Linked DNA regions of Homo sapiens. The protein of the gene in region 2 interacts with the protein of the main gene of each other region in a biochemical or structural test. Each region holds a gene or a part of one and is shown on either strand. Other genes may lie near its edges. The genes, in order: TANC2, LDB3, CD46, PRKACA, KCNJ18, CNTNAP4 and GHRHR.

The links.
Region 1: the proteins of LDB3 (region 2) and TANC2 interact in a test that uses a peptide from one of them, tested with the Homo sapiens proteins (one large-scale study listed by IntAct).
Region 3: the proteins of LDB3 (region 2) and CD46 interact in a test that uses a peptide from one of them, tested with the Homo sapiens proteins (one large-scale study listed by IntAct).
Region 4: the proteins of LDB3 (region 2) and PRKACA interact in a test that uses a peptide from one of them, tested with the Homo sapiens proteins (one large-scale study listed by IntAct).
Region 5: the proteins of LDB3 (region 2) and KCNJ18 interact in a test that uses a peptide from one of them, tested with the Homo sapiens proteins (one large-scale study listed by IntAct).
Region 6: the proteins of LDB3 (region 2) and CNTNAP4 interact in a test that uses a peptide from one of them, tested with the Homo sapiens proteins (one large-scale study listed by IntAct).
Region 7: the proteins of LDB3 (region 2) and GHRHR interact in a test that uses a peptide from one of them, tested with the Homo sapiens proteins (one large-scale study listed by IntAct).

What each region holds. Positions count from the first base shown.
Region 1 is NC_000017.11:63,420,735-63,424,234, forward strand, and holds part of TANC2 (protein TANC2), read left to right. Parts: coding exon 1-1,221; 3' UTR 1,222-3,500. UniProt on the Homo sapiens protein: Scaffolding protein in the dendritic spines which acts as immobile postsynaptic posts able to recruit KIF1A-driven dense core vesicles to dendritic spines.
Region 2 is NC_000010.11:86,671,511-86,675,010, forward strand, and holds part of LDB3 (LIM domain-binding protein 3), read left to right. Parts: intron 1-3,500. UniProt on the Homo sapiens protein: May function as an adapter in striated muscle to couple protein kinase C-mediated signaling via its LIM domains to the cytoskeleton.
Region 3 is NC_000001.11:207,758,554-207,762,053, reverse strand, and holds part of CD46 (membrane cofactor protein isoform 3 precursor), read right to left. Parts: intron 2,416-3,500; coding exon 2,330-2,415; intron 806-2,329; coding exon 608-805; intron 1-607. UniProt on the Homo sapiens protein: Acts as a cofactor for complement factor I, a serine protease which protects autologous cells against complement-mediated injury by cleaving C3b and C4b deposited on host tissue.
Region 4 is NC_000019.10:14,093,763-14,097,262, reverse strand, and holds part of PRKACA (cAMP-dependent protein kinase catalytic subunit alpha), read left to right. Parts: intron 1-3,470; coding exon 3,471-3,500.
Region 5 is NC_000017.11:21,702,523-21,705,112, forward strand, and holds the end of KCNJ18 (inward rectifier potassium channel 18), read left to right. Parts: intron 1-208; coding exon of another isoform or gene 209-264; coding exon 265-1,566; 3' UTR 1,567-2,090; downstream 2,091-2,590. UniProt on the Homo sapiens protein: Inward rectifier potassium channels are characterized by a greater tendency to allow potassium to flow into the cell rather than out of it.
Region 6 is NC_000016.10:76,535,901-76,539,400, reverse strand, and holds part of CNTNAP4 (contactin-associated protein-like 4 isoform 1 precursor), read right to left. Parts: intron 1,286-3,500; coding exon 1,061-1,285; intron 1-1,060. UniProt on the Homo sapiens protein: Presynaptic protein involved in both dopaminergic synaptic transmission and GABAergic system, thereby participating in the structural maturation of inhibitory interneuron synapses.
Region 7 is NC_000007.14:30,976,991-30,980,028, reverse strand, and holds the end of GHRHR (growth hormone-releasing hormone receptor precursor), read right to left. Parts: intron 2,749-3,038; coding exon 2,707-2,748; intron 911-2,706; coding exon 785-910; 3' UTR 501-784; downstream 1-500.

The DNA.
Region 1 (3,500 bases), on a different chromosome or scaffold from region 2:
GCCCAGCGGCCCTACCAGATGCCTCAGCTCCCTGTGGCAGTTCCCCAGCAAGGGCTCAGGCTACAGCCTGCCAAGGCCCAGATTGTGAGAAGTAACCAGCCCAGCCCAGCCGTCCATTCAAGCACCGTCATCCCCACAGGAGCCTATGGCCAAGTAGCCCATTCAATGGCCAGTAAATACCAGTCTTCACAAGGAGACATAGGAGTCAGCCAGAGCCGGTTGGTTTATCAAGGGTCAATTGGGGGAATCGTAGGGGATGGAAGGCCGGTGCAGCATGTCCAAGCCAGCCTGAGTGCAGGCGCCATCTGTCAGCATGGAGGATTGACCAAAGAGGATCTTCCACAGCGACCTTCCTCAGCATACCGAGGTGGCGTGAGATACAGCCAGACACCACAGATCGGACGCAGCCAGTCAGCATCCTATTACCCAGTCTGTCACTCAAAACTAGATCTGGAGCGCTCCTCCAGCCAACTAGGTTCCCCTGATGTGTCGCATTTAATCAGAAGACCTATCAGTGTCAACCCTAACGAAATCAAACCGCACCCGCCAACTCCCAGGCCGTTGCTGCATTCCCAAAGTGTAGGCCTTCGCTTCTCTCCATCTAGCAATAGTATCTCCTCCACCTCCAACCTAACTCCGACCTTCCGGCCATCTTCTTCCATCCAGCAAATGGAGATCCCACTGAAACCTGCATATGAGAGGTCATGTGACGAGCTGTCGCCAGTGTCTCCAACTCAAGGAGGTTACCCCAGTGAGCCCACCCGATCCAGGACCACACCATTCATGGGGATCATAGATAAAACAGCACGGACTCAGCAGTACCCCCACCTCCACCAGCAGAATCGGACCTGGGCAGTGTCATCTGTGGACACCGTCCTCAGTCCCACGTCTCCAGGCAACCTGCCTCAGCCTGAGTCCTTCAGTCCACCATCATCCATCAGCAACATTGCCTTTTATAACAAAACCAACAATGCACAGAATGGCCATTTGCTGGAGGACGATTATTACAGCCCCCATGGGATGCTGGCTAACGGGTCTCGTGGAGACCTCTTGGAGCGAGTCAGCCAGGCCTCCTCCTATCCCGACGTGAAGGTAGCTCGGACTCTACCTGTGGCTCAGGCATACCAGGACAACCTGTACAGGCAGCTGTCCCGAGACTCTCGGCAAGGGCAGACATCCCCTATCAAACCAAAGAGACCGTTCGTGGAGTCTAATGTTTAAAAGACGTTTTGTTGGAGTGAGACCCATATGTTTTCACTGCACATTTTCAGGCTTGGTTTCCACATTCGAGGTAGTTCTCTGGCTTAATTTCTCATGTAGTTTCTGTGTGGTGTTCAGAGGTGGCAGCCCACATGCTGAAATCCTTTGCATGCAGCCGACTGGGAAGCGGCCTCCCGGGAGCCAGGACTTCAGTTTCTCTTGTCTGTGCCCAGCCACATGCTCTCTCCCTCTCTTCAGATGCCAACGAGGAGATTTTCGTGCTGTGTGCTTTAACCCAGGGAGATCAGACACACTGGTCAGCTTTTTCCAGGAGACAATCGCTTTCACTGATGTTCTTGTTGTGTAATTGTCTTTTTCCTTTTTTAAAAAATAAGGTGTTCTTGTTCGTTTTCTTCTAGAAACTTTAGAAAGAGTGCGATGCCCCTTTGCCTTTGCATCCTTAGCCAGTGTCACCCACACAGCCAGCCGCAGCGCATTCTCATGCTGTGGCCCCTCCCCAGACCGCCAGCGCCCTGCAGCCACCAGGTCTGCAGTGTGCATTAGGATTATTGCTGGTCTTCCTAGGGGGTAAAAGGATCAGAGAGAGAAGAATTAAGTGCTAAATTGGAAGAAAACCCCAATATAATTATGTAAAATGTCACTACATTGATTTTCCAAGAGGCATTGTAGGAACATGTCAAAAACAGCCAGCCCTTTAAATATTGCAGTCAGCCAAGGAAATTAGATGAGAATTGTGGCTATTAAGAGAATTCACTGAGAGTTATTCTCTAGATTTTTAGCCGACAATTAACCACTAAAAGCTGCTGCTTTTCCAGGGTGGGGGAGGGAATGAATACATAGAAAAACAAAAAAGATTGTTCTGGATTCTCAGTGAAAGGCTATAGGAAGTCTGTTCTGGAGACATCTACTTTTTAGATCCTGATACATCACTGAGTGTCATACTCCACTAAAAGGAAACTCTAACCGAAGGCTGGCTGGTGTGACAATCCCGTTAGTTGGATCTTCACCTACAGCCAGATTTTGTTCTAGTGGCCCTCTTCCTGTAAACCCAGATGGTGTCATACAGAAATTGTTTCTTTCAGAAGCAGATTGGAATCTCTTGGGACCATGAGACTGAGTCCCAATATTTCCACCCAGGGTCATGCCCGTTGTTGTCTACTTCCATTTTGAGATCTATAGTTTGATTATCTATTATTACAGGAACTGTTTCTTTTCTTTTTCTAGGAGTGTTTATGAGAGTGTGATATTTTAAAGTCAGACGCAGCAAAAACTGTTTCAGGGTGAAGAAAGACCCCTTTCAGCCCTGTTTTGCAGCCCTGGGTGGGGGCATGAGATAGACAGCAAGCTTCTGATCTTGAAGCTTGTCTAGAAGACACATCTTCTAGGTCTCGTGGTCATTTGGTAGGCTGACCTTTGAGTGAGCGAGGCCACTATTGAGTGGATAGCAAGAACATTGGAACCAAAGCCTCGGCACAGGCCTGGCACTGGCTGTACATCAGCTCTTACAACTAAACAACTCAACTAAGCAACTGAAACGAAACAAAGGAGCATTCGTTCTCTGTTGTTAGGAATCATTCTGCTCTGTTAGGGAAGGGCTGCAGGAAGGGCAGTTTCCTGAATAAAAATCTGGCTGCGACCAGTCCCATGTGTCTGGTAAGTAAGTAAGTAAGTAAGTGCCCTTTGAAGGGATCATTAAGACACAGGGAGCATGAACCTGAGATCAGAAGCATTTCTTTACTAATTTAGATTCTGCGAAATAGACGGACCTCTCCACCCCCAAACCTAAAACAGGCCAGGACTTGTCTCTGTGCTGAAAGCAAATAGCAAGACTAACTCAAGCCCCAGCCTCTTTCCACACTCCCTGATACCTAAGGACTGCTTTCTCAGCTAGACCAGGGTGGGCATCAGCGACGCCTTCTCAGCTAGACCAGGGTAGGCATCAGCGTCCTCTCTCCATCTCTATACCCCTCTCTCTCACATCAGGAAGATGAAATGTGTAGCTCTAGCGGCAACCTCTAGCCAGGAGCCCAGTGGCCTCTCAGATTGCTTTTTGGCCAGGTCTCAGCACTGCTGGCATCTTTACATCTTACTCCTTAAAACCGCCTCTCGCTGAGGAGCCACTGCATTTTGAAGAATTTCTCAGTGTCTGTCAGGAAAGTGCTCCTGCTCATTTGGAACGCCACACACCACCCGCACTCACCTGTCCAGGCGAATGAGCAGGTCCTGTAGCTTTACAAATATGCCGCTGATGCCGCTTCTCCCCAGGGTCTCTCAGTTTT
Region 2 (3,500 bases):
GGAAATGCCTTTATTTATCCTGGACAGGTGTGGCTGGGCCTGCAACATGAGCTGCCCTTTCACCCCACCCCAGCCAGTTCTCCAGGAAGTGGAGAAGGGGGAGCAGCCCAGAGAGGGAGCAGCTCCAAAGGCCTCTGCCCTGGCAGCTGGCCAGAGGCTGGGGCTGTGGTCTGGGGTCTCACCTCTTCATGCCTCTCATGCCTCCGCCTTGGGGAAGAGGAGTATGCTTTGTTAGGCTCTGCTGCTCTCAGCTGTGTCACCTCAGAAGTCTGTTTACCTGCTCGGCCTCAGTTTTTCTCACCCTTAAAATGGGGATAGCAGGCTGGGCGCGGTGCCTCATGCCTGTAATCCCAGCACTTTGGGAGGCCGAGGGGGCAGACCACTTGAGGTCAGGAGTTTGAGACCAGCCTGGCCAACATGGTGAAACCCTGTCTCCACTAAAAATACAAAAATTAGCCAGGTGTGGTGGTACATGCTTGTGATCCCAGCTACTCAAGAGGCTGAGGCAGGAGAACAGCTTGAACCCAGGAGGCAGAGGTTGCAGTGAGCTGAGATCGCACCACTGCACTCCATTCTGGGGGCAGAGTGAGACTCCATCTTAAAAATAAATAAATAAATAAACAAATAAAATGATGCCTTCCACACCTGTGAGAGCTCTTTCTAACAGGCACTTGTGAAAACTTTCCACCTGTTGTCTACTGGGACTGGTTGTGAGACTGGTGGAGTCGGGGGCTGAGCCTGGGCCCAGGAGGGGCCTGCCTGTCTACTGGAAACCCTCTCTTCCTAGGGTCTCAGCCACCCCGCCTGCAGGCTCACCTGGAGCACCAGCTCAGAGGCCTCTTCTCTGTGGGTTTCGGTTCCAGTATTTATCAGACTCTCCCAGCTGTGGTGGGAACATGCTGAGGACAGAGGGTCTCTGGGGAGAGGAAGGGGGACAGGCTGAGACTATTCTGGGGTAGCTGTGCCGGCAATTCCTGGAATTTCGGGGCCGCTGGAGCACGCAGTGCTGTTTCTTGGGCAGCTCTTAGCAGTGCTGACAGGCCGTGCTGTTTATAGCCGCACTGAAGGTCAGGCAAGCCTCCGAGGGCTTCAGTGGGGCTGGCAGGGGCCTCCCTGCAACATCTATCAACAGGGGAAGATAAACGGCCAGAGGCTCAGAGGCTCACAGCTGGGGAATGCATTCTTAGAGGTCCCCCAGGCCAGGTCCTCCGGGCTGCTCAGAACTGCATCTAACTCTGTGAGGGATCCAAAAGGAGAGGACATGAGGCTGGCTGGGTCCTGGGGAATGAATTGGACCCTTGGAGGCCCCTGGGCCAGGACACCGTGCAAGGGCAGCTGCATAAGCAGCCCCAGGGCTCCGGGCCTACAGATATTGTGGGGTAGCCAGTGTCAGGACTGCAGGGCTGTTTGAGAAAGGCTGGGCCAGGCTCTGCTGGGGGCTAGCTCCCCAATTCCCTGAGTCTCCTTCCCTTTCTGCATGGTCCCCTCTCATCCAGAGGCTGCCCCTGACTGCAAAGACCCTCCTCTACACTGAGCCCTCCCACCCCCAAACACAGCTTTGGCACCCCTTTGGGACCAGGCTCCACCTCTGCCCAGGAACCATCCTTGGACACAAGAATGGGCCTTGCTGGGGGCCCTTGAGAGCCAGTGCCCATGAGGGCATTTTATTGGCCACACCCAAGACCCAAATGGAACTGTGGACCTGGACAGGAGGAAGAGAGGCAGGAGAGACTCAAGAGACACTTGAGGAAAGCCAGGGGAGGTGTGGTCAGCTACAGAGGGGGCAGTGACCCGTGGCTTTGGACACAGAAGGTCATTGATATGCGTGGAATAATGGGGCCAAAGGCAGACGGCTGTGTGTGAGCAGGTGGGAGGCAGCGGCAGTGGGGGCAGGATGTGTGGGTCACTTCTTGGAGGAGTCTGGAGGTGCAGAAAGGAGACATGACAGGAGCCAGTTGGAGCCACCCAGGCAGGCAGGGAGAGGCTTTTTGAGCATTGAGGGGACTCCGGCTTATTTATCGGCCAGGGTGGAGTTGGGGAGTGGGACCATGGGGAGACAGAAGGTTCCAGTGAGAGGGTGAGCATGAGCAAAGCCCCAGGGGAGGCCAGATGGGAAGGCAGCAGAGCAGGACAAGACAGTAATTTAATCATACAATGAAAATGCACTTTGTCCCACCTGCCCCAACCCAGGCAGGCAGCCTGGGAGTGTGGGGAGGGGGAGCTGCTGAAACTTGTACCCTTCCTACTTATCTGCCACCTGCCCCAGCCTCCACCCACCACATCTACACTGGCACATCTAGAAGAGGAGGAAGGCAGGGGCCTGCCTGGTTTGAACACCGGGAGTGAATGATGGCCAGAAACGTCTGCAGAGCCCAGCTGCTCTCTCTGCTGCCAGGGAACTGGGAAAATAGGAGCCAATGGCATGGGTGCGTCTGAAGCCTCACTGGTGCCTTCTTTCCCCTGGGCCTTGGACAGAAGTTTCCTCCCCTCCCCCCAACACCCAGGCCCCTCTAGGGACAGCAGGCTGGCTCAGAACTGGTCAGTCAGGGCTGGCTCCTCAAGCTCCACCCTCTGCCAGCTGTGGATCTTGTTTCCTGTGGAGCCCGGGGATGTAGCCAGCCAGCCTCACACCTTCTGGGGGTAGCAGATGGGGTCAGCACTGTGCCTCCTGGATTTGGAGTTTTCCTGAAACTCTCTCAGCTCTGCACCCTCCTTACATAATCCCCTGTTTAACGACATAATCCTCACAACAATCCCGAGAAAGGCATTGTCATTCTCTTGACACTGGAGGGCTTGGAGGCTGGCACCGAAGTCAGGGGCCCGGCCCATACTGGCACCTGTGCTCCTCCTTTGCTGCCTCCCCGCCCCCAGCCCCCAGCACTCACAAGTGGCTCTGGCACCAGCTCTCCCTGGGCTGCCCTTGGAAGTGCCCTAAGACCTTGGCCCAGCAAGGCGGAAGGGCTCCTGGGGGCAGGGAGCTGATCTTGGCCTCCAAACACCTGCAGCCTTTCTTGGGGGCTTTGGAGACAGGAGCTCGGTGCCCCACCCTGAGGCCATTCTAGGCTGCACCCAGGGTTGGGTTTCCAGGGTTTAGAGGGGCCCATTGGCGGGAGAAGACTGAAATGTGAAGTGGGAATGAAACACTCATTCAAGGGAGGCATTTAAATGCTCAAAGGCGGCTAGAAAGATTAAAAAGAAAAAACCACAGCTCCAAGGAGTTGGGTGCTTTGGGCCCTTTCTGAAACACAGAAAGGAAAGAGGAGGATGGAGTCAGACAAGACAGACGTGGAAGCATCGTGCCTGGACTGCACTCTCCATGAGCCCTGGACTCTGGGCAAGGGTCTGAGGGTGCCCCCCTCCAACCCACCCAGGCAGGCTGCTCCTGAGGTGGGGTGAAGGCATCCGATGGCTCCTGATCATCCATAGGGTCCCTGCCTCCATCCTGCCTGAAGCACCTCCCTAGAGGAGGATATCAGCACCCCCAGCCCCCACCCTGAGGG
Region 3 (3,500 bases), on a different chromosome or scaffold from region 2:
AAGTTTGTTAAAAGTTGTCTTATTGTCTAGAATATGGTCTACTTTGGAGAATGTTTCATGTGTACTTGGGGAGTATATACTTTTAAATCACTGTTATTCAGTGATTTCTTTCTTTAAATGGGCAAGTCCCCTACATGGTCTTCATACTTTTGGTCACTCCAGAGTGCCTTAAACATTTGGTCTTTAAAAAAAAAATTTTTTTTATCCAGAGTTTATCATTTTTATTTGTGAGACGATTAGTCTGTCACAGTTTACCACTACCATAGCCAGAACTCTTAGATTTCTTGTAATACAAGATGAAACTTTCTTTAAGCCAGTGTGTATTTTTTTTTTTTGGTTCTTTCAAACAAAAACTTCTAACTCATGCAGGTACACAGTAGTTCACACTGTATAAAATGAAATGCCAAGAACATGTAGGGGTGAGAAATAGGGAACTCTAGCTAGAACTATTTTTTGACTTGAATTGACCTGAATTAAAATAAATTAGAAACCAATTATACAGGAGGAGGAAGCACATACACCTGCTTTGTTTATCTGTAGATGAAACTATTTACAAAATGTTTCCATAGTATTTACAAATGAAGAAGGAAATAAATTGAAACACTACCTTTACACTCTGGAGCAGCACGACTCCACACTGAATTGTCACCACAATAAATCGTGCTCTCTCCAATAAGTGAAAATGGATCTGGTCCAGGTGCAGGATCACAACTATAAGTTACTGCATCAAGATACTCAAATACTTCTACTTCACTAAAGGTGTGTTTTCCATTTTTTATTTTTGGAGGTGGTGTACACAAAACCTCTTAAAAATGAAGAAAAAGAGGAAAGGAAATGTAAAAGATTAAGACAGCATTAGTAAAATTTCTGTGTCTTCAATAAATTTGTCAATATAGGGTTTCTACAAGCTGTTTGTGAATTCAATATGGATTTAAAAGAAGGTTTCTATGAGCAAATATATCATCCCAAATTCAAACCATTAATGTAGTAACTAACTTTCAGAACAAATCTCATTTTCTTAAAGTGTAAATACCTATTGATATGGTTTGGATCTGTGTCCCCACCAAATCGCATGTCAAATTGTAGTCCACAATGTTGGAGGTGGGGCCTGGTGGGAGGGGTCTGAATCATGGGGGTGGATTTCTCATGAATGGTTTAGCACCGTCCCCTTGGTGCTGTTCTCGTGATACTGAGTGCTTGGGAGATCTGGTTATTTAAAAGTGCGCAACACCTCCCGTCCTCCCCACCTTGCTCCTCCTGCTCCTGCCATGTGAGACACCTTGCTCTCCTTCTGTCTTTCCCAATGGTTGTTAAGTTTCCCGAGGCCTACCCAAACCCCCAGCAGATGCCAGCACCATGCTTCCTGTACAGCTTGTAGAAACATGAGCCAATTAAACTTCTTTTCTTTATAAATTACCCAGTCTCAGGTATTTCTTTAGAGCAATACGAAAACGGCCTAATACGCCTGTATTTATTTGGAAGGCCATGCTAAGTTCTGTTCTAGTCATCACAAGAAATGCTGACAATTAATGAGAAAATATGCTTAACTCGGTGCTAGTTAAGAAATCCTTTGCAATTTATAAATATATCCATTTTCTAAATTGGTGATTCACAATACCACCAAAATATTATTGTCTTTTTTCACTCTGATCCTAATAAGAATATAGTGATATTTTTCCAAAGGCTACATATTGTGTGATAACACAACAGGCCAAATACAATCTTGCTTTAAGCCAGATGTTGAAGAGATATGCAAAAAATGTGAACAATGCCACTATTCTCACTAATTTTATTTTGATTTGGAAAATTATTATTTTTCATAAAAATTATGTTACATATGTTAATTTGTATTGCATTTATTCTTACAAATTAATCAGGCCAGGTGGGGTGGCTCACATTTGTAATCCCAGCACTTTGGGAGGCCCACGGGGGCAGACTGCTTGAGCATGGGATTTCAAGACCAGCCTGGGCATCATGGCAAAACCCCGTCTCTTCAAAAATTACAAAAAGCCAGGCATAGTGGCACATGCCTGAAGCCCCAGCTACTGGAGAGGCTGAGGCTGCAATGAGCTGAGATTGTGCCACTGCACCCCAGCCTGGGAAATAGCCTGAGACCGTGTCTTAGGAAAAACAAACAAAACCAAAAAGAATCAATAATTATTTAAAAACCTCTCCGTTTGAATTCCAATATGATAAATACCAATAGATATAACCCACATAAAAGAAACCTCTTTGGGATCTTTGTTAATCTTAAAGTGTAAAGGGTGTAAAGGAGGCAAAAATCTTTGAGGACTACTGGTCTAAATTTAAAAAAAAAGAATTTACTTACTTTCACATATTGGGGGCTTACCGCTCCAAATTGCTACTGATCCTTTAAGTTCACAATATAGAATTTCTTCACCAATTAAGTAATAACTAAATGAGAAAAGAAAGGGTTACTGTTTTGTATAGCAATTAATAAGACACACATAATAATGAAGGAATTTTTTATATGGTTTCTTTTCTACACTACAGTAGTTTGAGGGGGTGGTTTCTTAAACAACATACTATATAACGAAAGTGCTAAATAAATCTGCAATTTAATCAAATAGAGTTTCCCCATTTGAATATATATTGGCCAAGAGCAAAGATGTCTAAATAAATCTGCTGTGCCTTTCCACCCAGCCTCTTTGCTGCCTCCTGCAATCACATTACACATTCATTTCTGTGCCTTTTCTCACACCACTTTGCACAGTAAGGACAAGGACTGTGTAGAGAGAACAGGCCCTAGAGCTGGAATGGATAGATTCAAGTCCCTGCTTCTCAACTTATCTAGTTTCTTGAGCTTGGGTAAGTCACTTAAAGTTCCTTCACTCAGCTTCCTAATTGATTAAAAGGGGATAACAGTACATGGGGTTGTTTAGGGGATTAGATAAGTTAGCATTTGGCACATAGATAGTGCTACATGAGTTTTAGCTTCTATTAATATTATTTAGAACAGAGTGTATTTCTAGGAATAGCTCACTGAGTATAAGAATACTTTCATTAAGTATACCCCTATACTCAATGAAATCTTCCCTGATTTAAATTCACAGGAATCTCTCCTCCTTCTGGACTCTTAGAGTAATTATCATGAATAATTCTACTTATTTGGTATTTCTCATTTAGTATTTTGCTTTTATTGCTCTCAGTATATATTATTTCTCAATAAGGTTAGAACTTCTTTTAGGAAGGTCACTGTCTTAAAGTTTTGGTATCCCTCGGTGTGCCTAGCAAGCAGTATGTGTCAACTGAATATTCCAATATTTCTACTTGACCAAATTTTAAAAACTGTCAGTTGCCTTACATAGTCACAGCTGATTTTTCCTCCAAGACTCACTTACTTTTTCTATATTATGGTGTGTTACTGCTATTGTTTGAATCTGGTTTGTCTCTACCAAAACTCATATTGAAATTTAATTGCCAGTGTAACAGCATTGAGAGGTGGTGGGGCCTTTAAGAAATGACTAGGTCATTAAGAG
Region 4 (3,500 bases), on a different chromosome or scaffold from region 2:
CTAGAAGTTCCTTAAGTCAGGCCAGGTGGTGAAGCTGGACGCGCCGGCCACACTGAGGCCAACACCTCAAGCCCCCTTGCTGTCCAGCCCCAACCCCGCGGTTCCAGAATCCCATGGGCTTCCAAAATCCCGAGCCTCACGGGAACATCTTGGCCACAGAACACAAACCGCCCTGCCAGACGACCCTCCTTTTCGCTCCTCATCCCAGTTAGTGTGAGTTTTCGCAAATTCCAAGGCAGAAAAACGAATGTATTTGGTTCCTGTTCCCAGGTGCTGTCCATAGCCTCACCCAGGATTGCCCTCACTTAGCATTTATAGCCCATGCTTCCTCTCCCAAACCCAGACTTGCCTAACTCTGAGGGTTCAGATGAGGGGTGGTGAAGCCATCTCAGCTCACATCTATGACAGGTGCAAAGTGCCCACCATCCACCAGGCCCCAGAATCCCCATCAGTCACACCCTGAGATAGTGGCACCCTCTGTAGGAGAGGTGAGGAAACAGGCTGGGAAAAGGGATGTGTCTTGGCCAAGATCACACTTTGGTGAGTAGGTAATCACCGTAGGCAATCATTGTAGGCACTGATGGCCGGAGAGAGGTTGGGGACCCCACCTCTGCCCTCAGCTCAACCACCTTGCTGGGAAGACCCGACCATCCCCCGACTTGGTCCAGCATCTCCTACACAGGAGCTTTTGGTTGGCCCGGAGTCATGACACTGTGGTGGGAGCACCCTCAGGCTCAGCCTGGGCCCCAGTCCCAGCTCTGCCACCGACTGGCTTTGAAACTTTGGGGCTGGGTACAATGGCTCACACCTGTAATGCCAGCACCTTGGGAAGTGGAGGCTTGAGGCCAGGAGTTCCAGACCAGCCTGGGCAACATAGCCAGACCCCATCTCTAAAAAAAAAAAAAAAAAAACAAACTGGCCGGGCGCGGTGGCTTACACCTGTAATCCCAGCACTGTGGGAAGCCAAGGCGGGCAGATCACCTGAGGTCGGGAGTTCGAGACCAGCCTGACTAACATGGTGAAACTCCGTCTCTACTAAAAACACACACAAAAAAAATTAGCTGGGTATAGTGGTGGGCGCCTGTAATCCCAGCTACTTGGGAGGCTGAGGCAGGAGAATCACTTGAACCCAGGAGGCGGAGGTTGCAGTGAGCCAAGATCACACCATTGTACTCCAGCCTGGGCAACAGGGCAGGACTCTGTCTCAAAAAAAAAAAAAAAAAAAAAAAACTAAAAATTAGCTGGGCGTGATGGTGCACCCCTGTGTTCCCAGCTCATCGGGAGGGTGAGGCAGGAGGATCGCTTGAGCCCAGAAGTGAGCTGTGAGCTGTGATTGCATCACTGCAGTCTAGCCTGGGTCACAGAGCCAGACCCTGTCTTTTAAAAAAATTCAGGCAAGTGGGGTGCCCCAGCTGGACACATAGCATCACTAAAAGAGAAAGATGAAGGCCAGGCGCGGTGGCTCACACCTATAATCCCAGCATTTTGGGAGGCCAAGGCAGGTGGATCACGAGGTCAGGAGTTCAAGACCAGCCTGGCTAACATGGTGAAACCCTGTCTCTACTAAAAATACAAAAATTAGCTGGGCGTGGTGGCGGGTGCCTGTAATCCCAGCTACTCGGGAGGCTGAGGCAGAGAACTGCTTGAACCCGGGAGACAGAGGTTGTAGTGAGCCGAGATTGCGCCACTGCACTTCAGCCTGGGTGACAGAGCAAGACTCTGTCTCAAAAAAAGGGAAAGATGAGGCATCTGCCACCGGACCAAAAGAAACTGCCAAGAAAATGGCCCAGAGTTGGCCGGGTGTGGTGGCTCACGCCTGTAATCCCAGCACTTTGGGAGGCCGAGGCGGGCGGATCACGAGGTCAGGAGTTTAAGACCAGCCTGACCAACATGGTGAAACCCCGTCTCTACTAAAAATACAAAAATTAGCCGGATATGGTGGCACACACCTGTAATCCCAGCTACTCAGGAGTCTGAGGCAGGAGAATCACTTGAAACCGGGAGGCAGAGGTTGCAGTGAGCTGAGATTGTGCCACTGCACTCCAGCCTGGGCAACAGAGCAAGACTCCATCTCAAAAAAAAAAAAGAAAAAAAGAAAAAAAAATGTCCCAGAGTGGGAAAAAAAAGAAAGAAAAAAACACAGAAGATCCCACAGGAGAAGATGCACATGACTCCCTTCTTTGTAGCATTTTCTAGTTCCCCCGCACCGTCAGTGGTATTATCTCCCTCGTGCAGCCCTGGCATATCTGCCCCACATCTGAGAGGCATGCGCAGGCCCAGAGAGGTTAAGGGCCATGGCCAAGGTCACACAGCGTGTAAGAGGCACAGCAGGAACAAGAAGTCGTTTCTTGCAACTATAACTCCAGTGATGACTTGCATACAAGGCGTGGGCTCAGAGGGTTTGGGGAAAACTTTCAAGAAGAGTTGAGCTGGGCTTTAAAGAACGGAAGAGCCTTAGCTATGCAGAAAGAGAGGAGAGAAAAAGTTTGTCATAAGCAAGAATATTTCAGAAGTCTCCAGACCCCAGCAGAGATGCCTTAAGCAGCAGCAGCAGCAGCTGAGAATGCAAGTTCTAGAGTCCAGTAGACCTGAGATGGAATTGCCCCATCACACACCTCAATGTGACCTAGGAAGAGCTGTTTAACCCAAGCCTCAGTTTCCCCTTCTCTGAAATGGAAATCATCATAGCACTTGCCTTAGAGCAATGGTTCTTAAAAGGGACCCCTTTCCAGCAGCACCATTGCTGGGGAATTTGTTAGAAATGCAGATTCTTGGGCCAGGCACGGTGGCTCACACCTGTAATCCCAACACTTTGGGAGGCCAAGGCAGGTGGATCACCTAAGGTCAAGAGTTCAAGACCAGCCTGACCAATATGGTGAAACCCCGTCTCTACTAAAAATACAAAAATTAGCCAGGTGTCTTGGCGTGAGCCTGTAATCCCAGCTACTCAGGAGGCTGAGACAGGAGAATTCCTTGAACCCAGGAGGCGGAGGTTGCAGTGAGCCCAGATCGCACCACTGCACTCCAGCCTGGGCTACAGAGTGAGGCTATTTTTTTTTTTTTTTTTTTTTTTTTTTCAAAAAAAGAAATGCAGATTCTTGCTGGGTGTGGTGGCTCACGCCTATAATCCTAGCACTTTGGGAGGCCAAAGCAGGAGGATCGCTTGAGCCTAGAAGTTCAAGACCAGCCTGGGCAACGTAGTGAGACCCTGTCTCTACAAAAACTTCTTAAAATAACTAACTCTTGAATTTTTAAAGTTTTTAAAGAAATGCAGATTCTCAGGCCACAGTATCAGACTTCCTAAATTGGAAACTGTAGGGTAGGCTCAAGGAGCTGTTTTACAAGATGCTGGCAGGCACTCTGCTTTGGAGGCCCACACCCAGTAGGACCGTTGGATGGAGAAAGAAGCATCATGGGCTTCCCAAGTTCCAGACCAGCTTCCCACCCTGTCCTTGTACCCCTTCCTCCAGGTGCGCTTCCCTTCCCACTTCAGCTCTGAC
Region 5 (2,590 bases), on a different chromosome or scaffold from region 2:
GTTTTTGGCTGGAGCTGCTGGGGGCCCGAAGGGGGTGGCCACTCGCACTGGGAAGGCGGAGTGGGGAGCTGGCTTAGGCAAGACCAGAGCATGATTGTGGGTCAATCAGGGTGGAAGCGTCCTCCAGTCACGTCTGGGGGCCCTGGGATGGGGGTAGAGGAGCCTGGAGCCACCAGCCCAGCCAGACATGCTGTCCTCTCTGTTCCAGGAGCCGCCCTGCCTGGAGCTAGCCTGGGGGTGAGCCAGGGTCCCCCAACCCCCGGGATGACCGCGGCCAGCCGGGCCAACCCCTACAGCATCGTGTCATTGGAGGAGGACGGGCTGCACCTGGTCACCATGTCGGGCGCCAACGGCTTCGGCAACGGCAAGGTGCACACGCGGCGCAGGTGCCGCAACCGCTTCGTCAAGAAGAATGGCCAGTGCAACATTGCGTTCGCCAACATGGACGAGAAGTCACAGCGCTACCTGGCTGACATGTTCACCACCTGTGTGGACATCCGCTGGCGCTACATGCTGCTCATCTTCTCGCTGGCCTTCCTTGCCTCCTGGCTGCTGTTCGGCGTCATCTTCTGGGTCATCGCGGTGGCACACGGTGACCTGGAGCCGGCTGAGGGCCACGGCCGCACACCCTGTGTGATGCAGGTGCACGGCTTCATGGCGGCCTTCCTCTTCTCCATCGAGACGCAGACCACCATCGGCTACGGGCTGCGCTGTGTGACGGAGGAGTGCCTGGTGGCCGTCTTCATGGTGGTGGCCCAGTCCATCGTGGGCTGCATCATCGACTCCTTCATGATTGGTGCCATCATGGCCAAGATGGCAAGGCCCAAGAAGCGGGCACAGACGCTGCTGTTCAGCCACAACGCCGTGGTGGCCCTGCGTGACGGCAAGCTCTGCCTCATGTGGCGTGTGGGCAACCTGCGCAAGAGCCACATTGTGGAGGCCCATGTGCGCGCGCAGCTCATCAAGCCGCGGGTCACCGAGGAGGGCGAGTACATCCCGCTGGACCAGATCGACATCGATGTGGGCTTCGACAAGGGCCTGGACCGCATCTTTCTGGTGTCGCCCATCACCATCTTGCATGAAATTGACGAGGCCAGCCCGCTCTTCGGCATCAGCCGGCAGGACCTGGAGACGGACGACTTTGAGATCGTGGTCATCCTGGAAGGCATGGTGGAGGCCACAGCCATGACCACCCAGGCCCGCAGCTCCTACCTGGCCAATGAGATCCTGTGGGGTCACCGCTTTGAGCCCGTGCTCTTCGAGGAGAAGAACCAGTACAAGATTGACTACTCGCACTTCCACAAGACCTATGAGGTGCCCTCTACGCCCCGCTGCAGTGCGAAGGATCTGGTAGAGAACAAGTTCCTGCTGCCCAGTGCCAACTCCTTCTGCTATGAGAACGAGCTGGCCTTCCTGAGCCGTGACGAGGAGGATGAGGCGGACGGAGACCAGGACGGCCGAAGCCGGGATGGCCTCAGCCCCCAGGCCAGGCATGACTTTGACAGACTCCAGGCTGGCGGCGGGGTCCTGGAGCAGCGGCCCTACAGACGGGGGTCAGAGATCTGAGCCAACCTTGGCCGACATGCAGCATCCACCCCTGGCCGGGGAGAGGCCCCGCGGTCGCTCAGGGGCCCTGGGTTTGAGCAGAACGGGCCCAGTGCCCTGGGTTGCAGACTCAGTAGCGTTTTAGTCGTTTTATGTTTCTTTGCAAAGGCCTCAGAAGGTTGGCCGGAGAGGGGGCAGCCAGAGCGGCAGCCCCCGGCCTCAGAGGCTATCACAGGCTCAGGGCAAAGAAGTGGCCTCCTGGGGGGCCAGGCCACGGGGGCCAGGGCTTCTGCCTGAAGATGGAGCTGCAGCCTGCGGGGAAGCAGCCCAGCTCGATGGTGGGCCCAGCCTCTGCTGTCCAAGGCTGGCTAGCTGCGGTGCTCCTTGCTGGTTTTTAACTTGGGGAGAAACACCGGGTTTCAGCTTTCTCGACCTTAGCTTGGGTGAGACTGTTTACAAAAAAAAAAAAAACCATGCAATTGGAGAAAAAAATTTTAATTCATAGGGGGCAAAAAGAACAATTAGAATTCCATGGGTCTGCCAGGATGCAGCAGCTGGCTGGAGGCTCCAGAGGGTTCCCCGAGGTGGGACCGGCCTCTCCCCGTGTATGTGGGCACTGCAGTCCCTGGGCAAGCAGGGTGCTCTGGGGCCGCACTTTGTCGAGCTCACGAGCCAGCTAGGCTCTGTTTGTGATAGAAAAATCAAGACCATGTTAATGATTGTAATAAAAGCTTTCTGCTGTCTTTGGGGTGCTGGGTGGGTCTGGGAAGAAAGTGGTTTGAGCTTTTAGAGTTTGCCTTTGTACCTTAGAGATGTGTCTCAGGGCCAGGCATGGGACCTGCCATCGAGGGTTCCTCCTCCCACCCTCGATTTTCCTGTTTTGCTTCTTTCTCCATTTCTGTCCAGGCCTCCGCCCAATTCCACAGTGAGGGGTGGTTAGGAGCCATAGGCCAGGATGCCTCCTTGGGAAGGGAAGTCAGGATCCCAGGCTAGGAGGAAGCTGGCAGCCCCGTCCCCACTGGGCCCACAGTGTGAGTCGTGCGTT
Region 6 (3,500 bases), on a different chromosome or scaffold from region 2:
ACCTATTGCTTAATATTGCAATAATATTCTGTTCCTATATTTAAAAAATATATCTCACACTCTGGAAATACAACAATTAATGAAATTATTAAACACAAATGTAGTTTTACTAAAGAGAAGAAATATGTCCAAGTAGTCATGGTCATAGACTTTGAAATGAAATAATGGTAAGATGAATGATTTTAAGCCAAATTTACCATCACAATTAGTACTACTCATTTAATTGCCTGCAGAGATGTCAGTTAATTTATTTCACAGGATATCTTTCAATTTGACAAAGAAAATGCCCTAATATATAAATAAGCTTCAAGCTCAAAATGCACAGTAAGAATAAATACACTTATCGAACAATCTTATTTTTATTTTGGTGTTCAGTACAGTACCCTTGGGATATATTTGAATCAGTTGAAATGATATAGTCACATGTTTGTATGTTTGCTTTTCTTATCCAGAGAAGTTATTTCCAAAATTTTTACCTTTAATCTAGATGTGGGAAAGAGAAAAATAGCAGTAAATGGTTTTCTGTAGGAAACACATTTCCTAATCTACATTCCCTTAACACTGCATGGATATAACATTTTTTTCCCATGATGATTTTTTTAACTAAAAGTACAACTAAAAGGTCATCTTGTGGACATATTCTTACTCAAAATGCTGGTTTATTAACACTCCCTTAATGTTTCTTTACTTTGATTTGCAGGAAATAGTTACATACAACAAGACACCTTATTTCAAAATGAACTATGAAACAAATATTGATAGCCATATGGAATAGTCAAGGAGCTTCTAACAATAATATAATAAATGTTTTATATAAATAAAATTATACATTGAATATGTAAAATTATCAAAATCATAAAGAGATAAGGGCATCTTAATCATTTTAAATAATCCTTTTAGATTATACTTATAGGATAGTACTAAAAATATGACTACAAAAAACAGGCACACTCCATTTTTCTGTTTGTAGCTTGAGAAGCCAGAACACGAGAATGATCCATATTATTACAGAGCTAGTGTTCTAATTTAATTTTCTCTCTCTCATCTAAAAAGAACTCACCATTTTTGGCAATGATCACAGAAAGGTATTCTTTGTAAAAGGAGCTCACAAAAAGCAGCAAGCTTGGTGTTCGTGTTGTTCGGAAACTAAATTTGATCATTTCTCTGCTCAGCTTCATATCACCATGAAATGAAGCAGCGTGGGAGCTGGAGTTTTTACTTAAAAGATAATTTTCTTGAAAATTGTATATCACGGATGAGCCAGATCCAAAATATGCAGAAATCTCTGAAATAATATATATATATATTTTTGTTAAAAATTTTAAGTACAAGGATTTTGTTTTAGTTACAATAATTATATTTTAGTTTCTTTAATGAATTGCATAGATAGAAGAACCAACCCCAAAATAGAATCAAATAATAAAGTAAGTTAATAGAGCTTTCAAAATGATCTTTGAAATGGCTTTCTGTTAAAATGACATATAATTAATGCACTAGTATAATTTTACAGTTGAAAGTTAAATGCTTTCTTATCTGAGTTCAAACACAAACCAGGCTTGTCTTCTATCTCCTTGATCATCTACTTTTTTATTTAAATTTTAACTCCCATCTGTTATATTGCAGATAGTACAATCTTAAATGAAGTGTATCTTAAAGGAAGTCTAGGGCCTCCTATCTACAAAATAGTTAGGAAGGAAGGATGTTTGAGAGACTCTCTTCTTTCCCAGGATCAAGAGGCAGAAATTTTCCTTTATGTCTAAACATTTTCTCATAGTTATTGTGTACTATAAAAAGAAAGCTAAGTCTAGTATTAACATGATACAGGGAAACAGGATCAACAAACAGAACTAACCAACCTCTTTTAAATCATTTTACAAAAGTGTAGTATTTTCCTGGTATGAGATTAATATCCCAAATTCTCTCTGTCTTCCTCTCTCTCTCTCTCACACACACACACCAAATACATATGTATGAAAATGAAGAAGATGGCAGAAGAAATAACTAGTTTTAAATCCCTGAATCTGCTTCTCTCCATTACTGAAAAAGGACTGGTTATTGAATACAAGTTGTAGATGATACTTACTGGATCATACAGTAATGTTTAGGCTCCCTTGACATCTTAGAGTTTTTAATTGTTTCATTATTTTATTATCTATAACACGCATTTTATATTCAATATAATATGTGCATACAGAGTAACATTTACGGTTGCACTTAGCAAGATGAACTGGAAATTATTTATATCCAGAAAACAAAGACATGTTATTTTAATGAAGTGGTCTTAATGATCACTTTAAACATGAAAAGTGTCCTAGAATGGTACCAGCAGTATATGATTATGATCACAAGTTGATTTGTAAATTATAGATTATTCCTGAGAAAAGCAGATGACTTGAAAAGAGCATTTGGCCATCTTTTTATTAACTCATCCCATGCTTTCTTTGTAAGTCAGGAGTTGTTTTAATCTGGAGCCAAGTTTTGTTAGCCTCCTTCAGGAAAAGGTTCAATAGCCAAGAGACACTTTAAATAAAGTAAATGAATTTAAATTGGATGTCAGTCTTCTATGAGGAACTATGAAAGAGTAATAAATGTTTGTATATTCATGGAAGTCTGTCCAGAACACTTAATCCTACAACTGTTCTTTTCTTCTTCCATGAGGCATATCAGATAATGAGAGAAGCTGAAAAGTATTCTACTATTTTATTTCACCAGCAGATATTCAACATATCATACAATAAAATGTATGATTAATGTATAAATGTGTCTATTTTTGTAATGCATCGATATTTAATGGTATATTGTTTATATTTCTGGAAAAACTATGTCTGAAAAACTCAAATAAAAAACAATGCATCTTAAATATCCTTGCATTGTTGAATATCTTCAACAAATACAATAGTAACAGGGCCGGGCATGGGGACTCACGTCTGTAATCCCAGCACTTTGGGAGGCTCAGGTGGGTGGATTACTTGAGGTCGGGAACTTGAGACCAGCCTGGGCAACATGGTGAAACACTATCTCTACTAAAAATACAACAATTAGCTGGGCATAGTGGTGGGCTCCTGTAAGCCCAGCTACTCGGGAGGCGGAGGCAGGAGAATCGCTTGAACCTGGGAGGTGGAGGTTGCAGTGAGCCGAGATTGCGCCACTGCACTCCAGCCTGGGTGACAGAGTGACAGAGTAAGACTCAGTCTCAAATAAAAAAAAAAGTAATGCTTTAAATGATTTTAAAATAAAGAATTGCCCCATGGGGCAGGTTGCTGACAGCCATATTATTTAAGAGCATCAACACTAGGTAGAAAAAAGCAGATTGAGCAACTAACACTTTATAATACATAAAGGTGACTATTAATGGATTTACCATCAACAAACACTAGTTTTTCATAAATGAGTCAAATATTTAAGTAATGAAATATGATGCGCTCCATCTTTGAATATATGATGCTGTCTCATCACCAGGATCTTGTACTCATTCTTTACATTCAACAGATACTTTGCCA
Region 7 (3,038 bases), on a different chromosome or scaffold from region 2:
CATTTTTAGTAGAGACAGCGTTTCGCTATGTTGGCCAGGCTGGTCTCGAACTCCTGACCTCAGGTGATCTGCCTTCCTCAGCCTCCCAAAGTGCTGGGATTACAGGCATGAGCCACCGCGTCCACCCCGGGAGCATCTCTTAAAAGCACAGTGCTGAGGGGGAAACGTTAGAAGCAGGATGAGGCATATGACCAACAGCATTTATGTAAATTAAAGTACAGACACACAAAACACCACGTATTTTGCAAGACACACAGAAACACAAGTATTCACATTAAGCATGCTCTCTTTGCCTGTGAGAGGAGGCGAATGGGAGTGGTGAAGGCAAAAGAGAGTACATTTTAAGAATAAATAAAACAAGAGGCCCCTTGCACAGATAAATAATCATAATGTAGCATGAACTGAGGAATGATGAACGCAACTCAGCACCAGACGTCTAAATAAAGAACGCAGGTGCGCTCCCCTTTAAAGGCCCATTTACTCACTCAAACATGCGTCTATTCATTTACAGGTTTATTGGCTCCTCTGAGCCTTGGGCTAGAGCCCCAGGCCCCAGTAAGAGGAATGGATGAGAGCAGACACAGAGGGACCACAGAAGTCAGAGGTAGACATACAGGGACCTCAAAAGAGAGTCAGATGCAGAGACAGGGAGGAAGGGCTGCACCTGCCCCGGGCTGGGTAACAGCTGGGGTGGGGATGTGGCCCCCTTGCTCCTCCAGAGCATGGCAGACCCGTGGTAGCTGCCCAAATTCAAGTGTGGACTCCAGTGGCGTGATGAGGCAGCCTAGCACATAGATGTCAGCACCTTTGCCGCCGAGCGGGAAGGCGTGGTCCACTTAGCACGGGTCCTCCAGGCTGGCAGAAGCTCAGGGTCATGGCCATGCCACTTCCGTGAGATCTCAGTCCTCACCTCCAGGGACAAGGAAGAGGACGTTAGGAAGGTCCCCCTGTGGCTTTGCTACTCAACCCCAATGAGACTAAGGTGCAGGGAGAGGCCGTGTAAGAGAAACAGAGACATGGGGCAGGAAAAGTCATGCTTGGCAACAGGTACTGCTAAGTACTACCTCTGGAGGATACTACTTTTTCCTTCCTGTGAGTATTTCTCACCATTCTTTTAGCTCCTTTCTCTGCCTTTTAGCCCTGCCTTTGTCTGAGCCCAGTTAAAGACATTTATAGGTGCTTTCTTGAGTTCCTGGCCAAATAACCACCCTGTTCTCTCTTAATCACTTAGACCACTCCTTGCTCTGGGATTCAATTTTGTGAGCTCAACTCTGGCCACTGGAAATCTGTCCAGAGGACATGACCTGAAGGGAGAGAGGATTCAGAACTCTGTCTGAGGGGTTGCAGTTGAGGAAACTGAAAGTAAGTAAAAGAAAAGTAGCCTGGGGCAAGATGGAACGGTGGGATTGGGGGGTGGGGGTGCTGTCTGTATCTTCACATCTCCAAGGGGCTTTCAGGGGCATAGGGTGCTGAGAGAATGTGCCTCATGCAGTAGAGCCGAACTGGGGTTGTGGTGAAAGATAAAAGGAATCAGATATCTGTTCAACATAAAGATGATCTTTCCACAGCTGCCTGACAACAGAAAGAGCTATTGGGATGTAGTAAGCTCACTGTCACCAGAGGTATGTAACCACCTGGTCTCCGGCACTGCTTCCCAAGACAGCTCCCTTCACACCTCTCTGTGGAAACACTTTTTCCACACCCCACCAGCCTCAGCCTGGGATGCTTCTTGCCCCTCCCAGGACCCCCAGGGCCCATGGTCTGCTACAGCCAGACACCAGATAAGGCTGCATGGGACTTAGAGAGGTCAGGTGAGGAATAAAGAGAGGGAGAGTGGAAGGAGCAGTAAGGGACAGAGGTGGCAGATGAGATGGGAGCAAAACTCCACAGCGAAGGGGACAGGGCATCTGCAGCCAACTCTCACAGAATGCAGAGCCCATGGCAAATCCATGGCCAGCAGAGGGAGCGCATGGCCCTGCAGGTGCACAAAGGTGGAACTTGGGAGTCCGGGGCATTGAGATCAATTCTCCCCCGCCTCTCTCCCCAGAGCAGGACTGTCCTAAGGGGGAAATTCAGTGTCTCCTGGGTGGAATTCACTTTGCGTCAGTCTCTGTCGTGTCCCCACGTTTCCACATGTGCAGCAGCACCATCTGTTCTGTCTTTTCATGTCTATCTCCCCTTCTGTCCACTCTCTTTGTGTGTCTGTTTTCTTTAGGTGCTCTCTCTGTTTCTTGGGCTCCAGATCTTCCTCTTTGTCTCTGCATCTGATTATTTTCCTAGTTCCCTGTATGTTTACCTCTGACTTTCTTGGCTCCTCTATCTGTTCTCTCTGATTGTCTCTCCCTCAGCTGGCGTACCCCCTCCCCAACTCTCCTTTTTGTTCAATTTTAGGAACACAGAATTGGGGGATTCCTTCTGACTCCCTACCCTAATCCCCCTCCTTATCCCTGAAAGGCCTCCTCCACCTCCTGAAGAGTAGCTAGTAGAACTTGGCCCAGCTCAGAGGAAGGATGGATAAGAGATGTTTACAGGAAACATTCCGGTTCAGCTTGATCCAGAAGCTCAGGACAGACTACCACAAAAGCTCACAAGAGTGAAGGTGTGGCCTGAGCTGGGGTTTACAGGGCCTGAGTGGGAGAGAGGAGGAGGGGCCTTAGGTCTGGTGGGAGGGGGACTCCATGAGGGATAGCCTCAAAAATCACACACCTCTTGGTTGAGGAAGCAGTAGAGGATGGCAACAATGAAGCCCTGTGGGTCCAAAGAAGAAAGACCCCATCAGAACCCTTTGGCCTGGCCTGAAGGTGTCCACCGTCTTTCTGCTACCTTTTCCCTACTCATCCCCAGGCTATGGCTTGGGCCAGGTTTGATTGAAAGGGGAATTTAAATGCATTCATTACTTACTATGTGCCAGGCATATTGTCATAGAATTGTCATAGCAAGCCTGCCAGGGCTGTACTGTTGGCCCCATTTCTCTGACTTTATTTCTGCATCCCTTGTGAATGAGCACAACACTTGGCACATAATAGGGGATCAGTAAG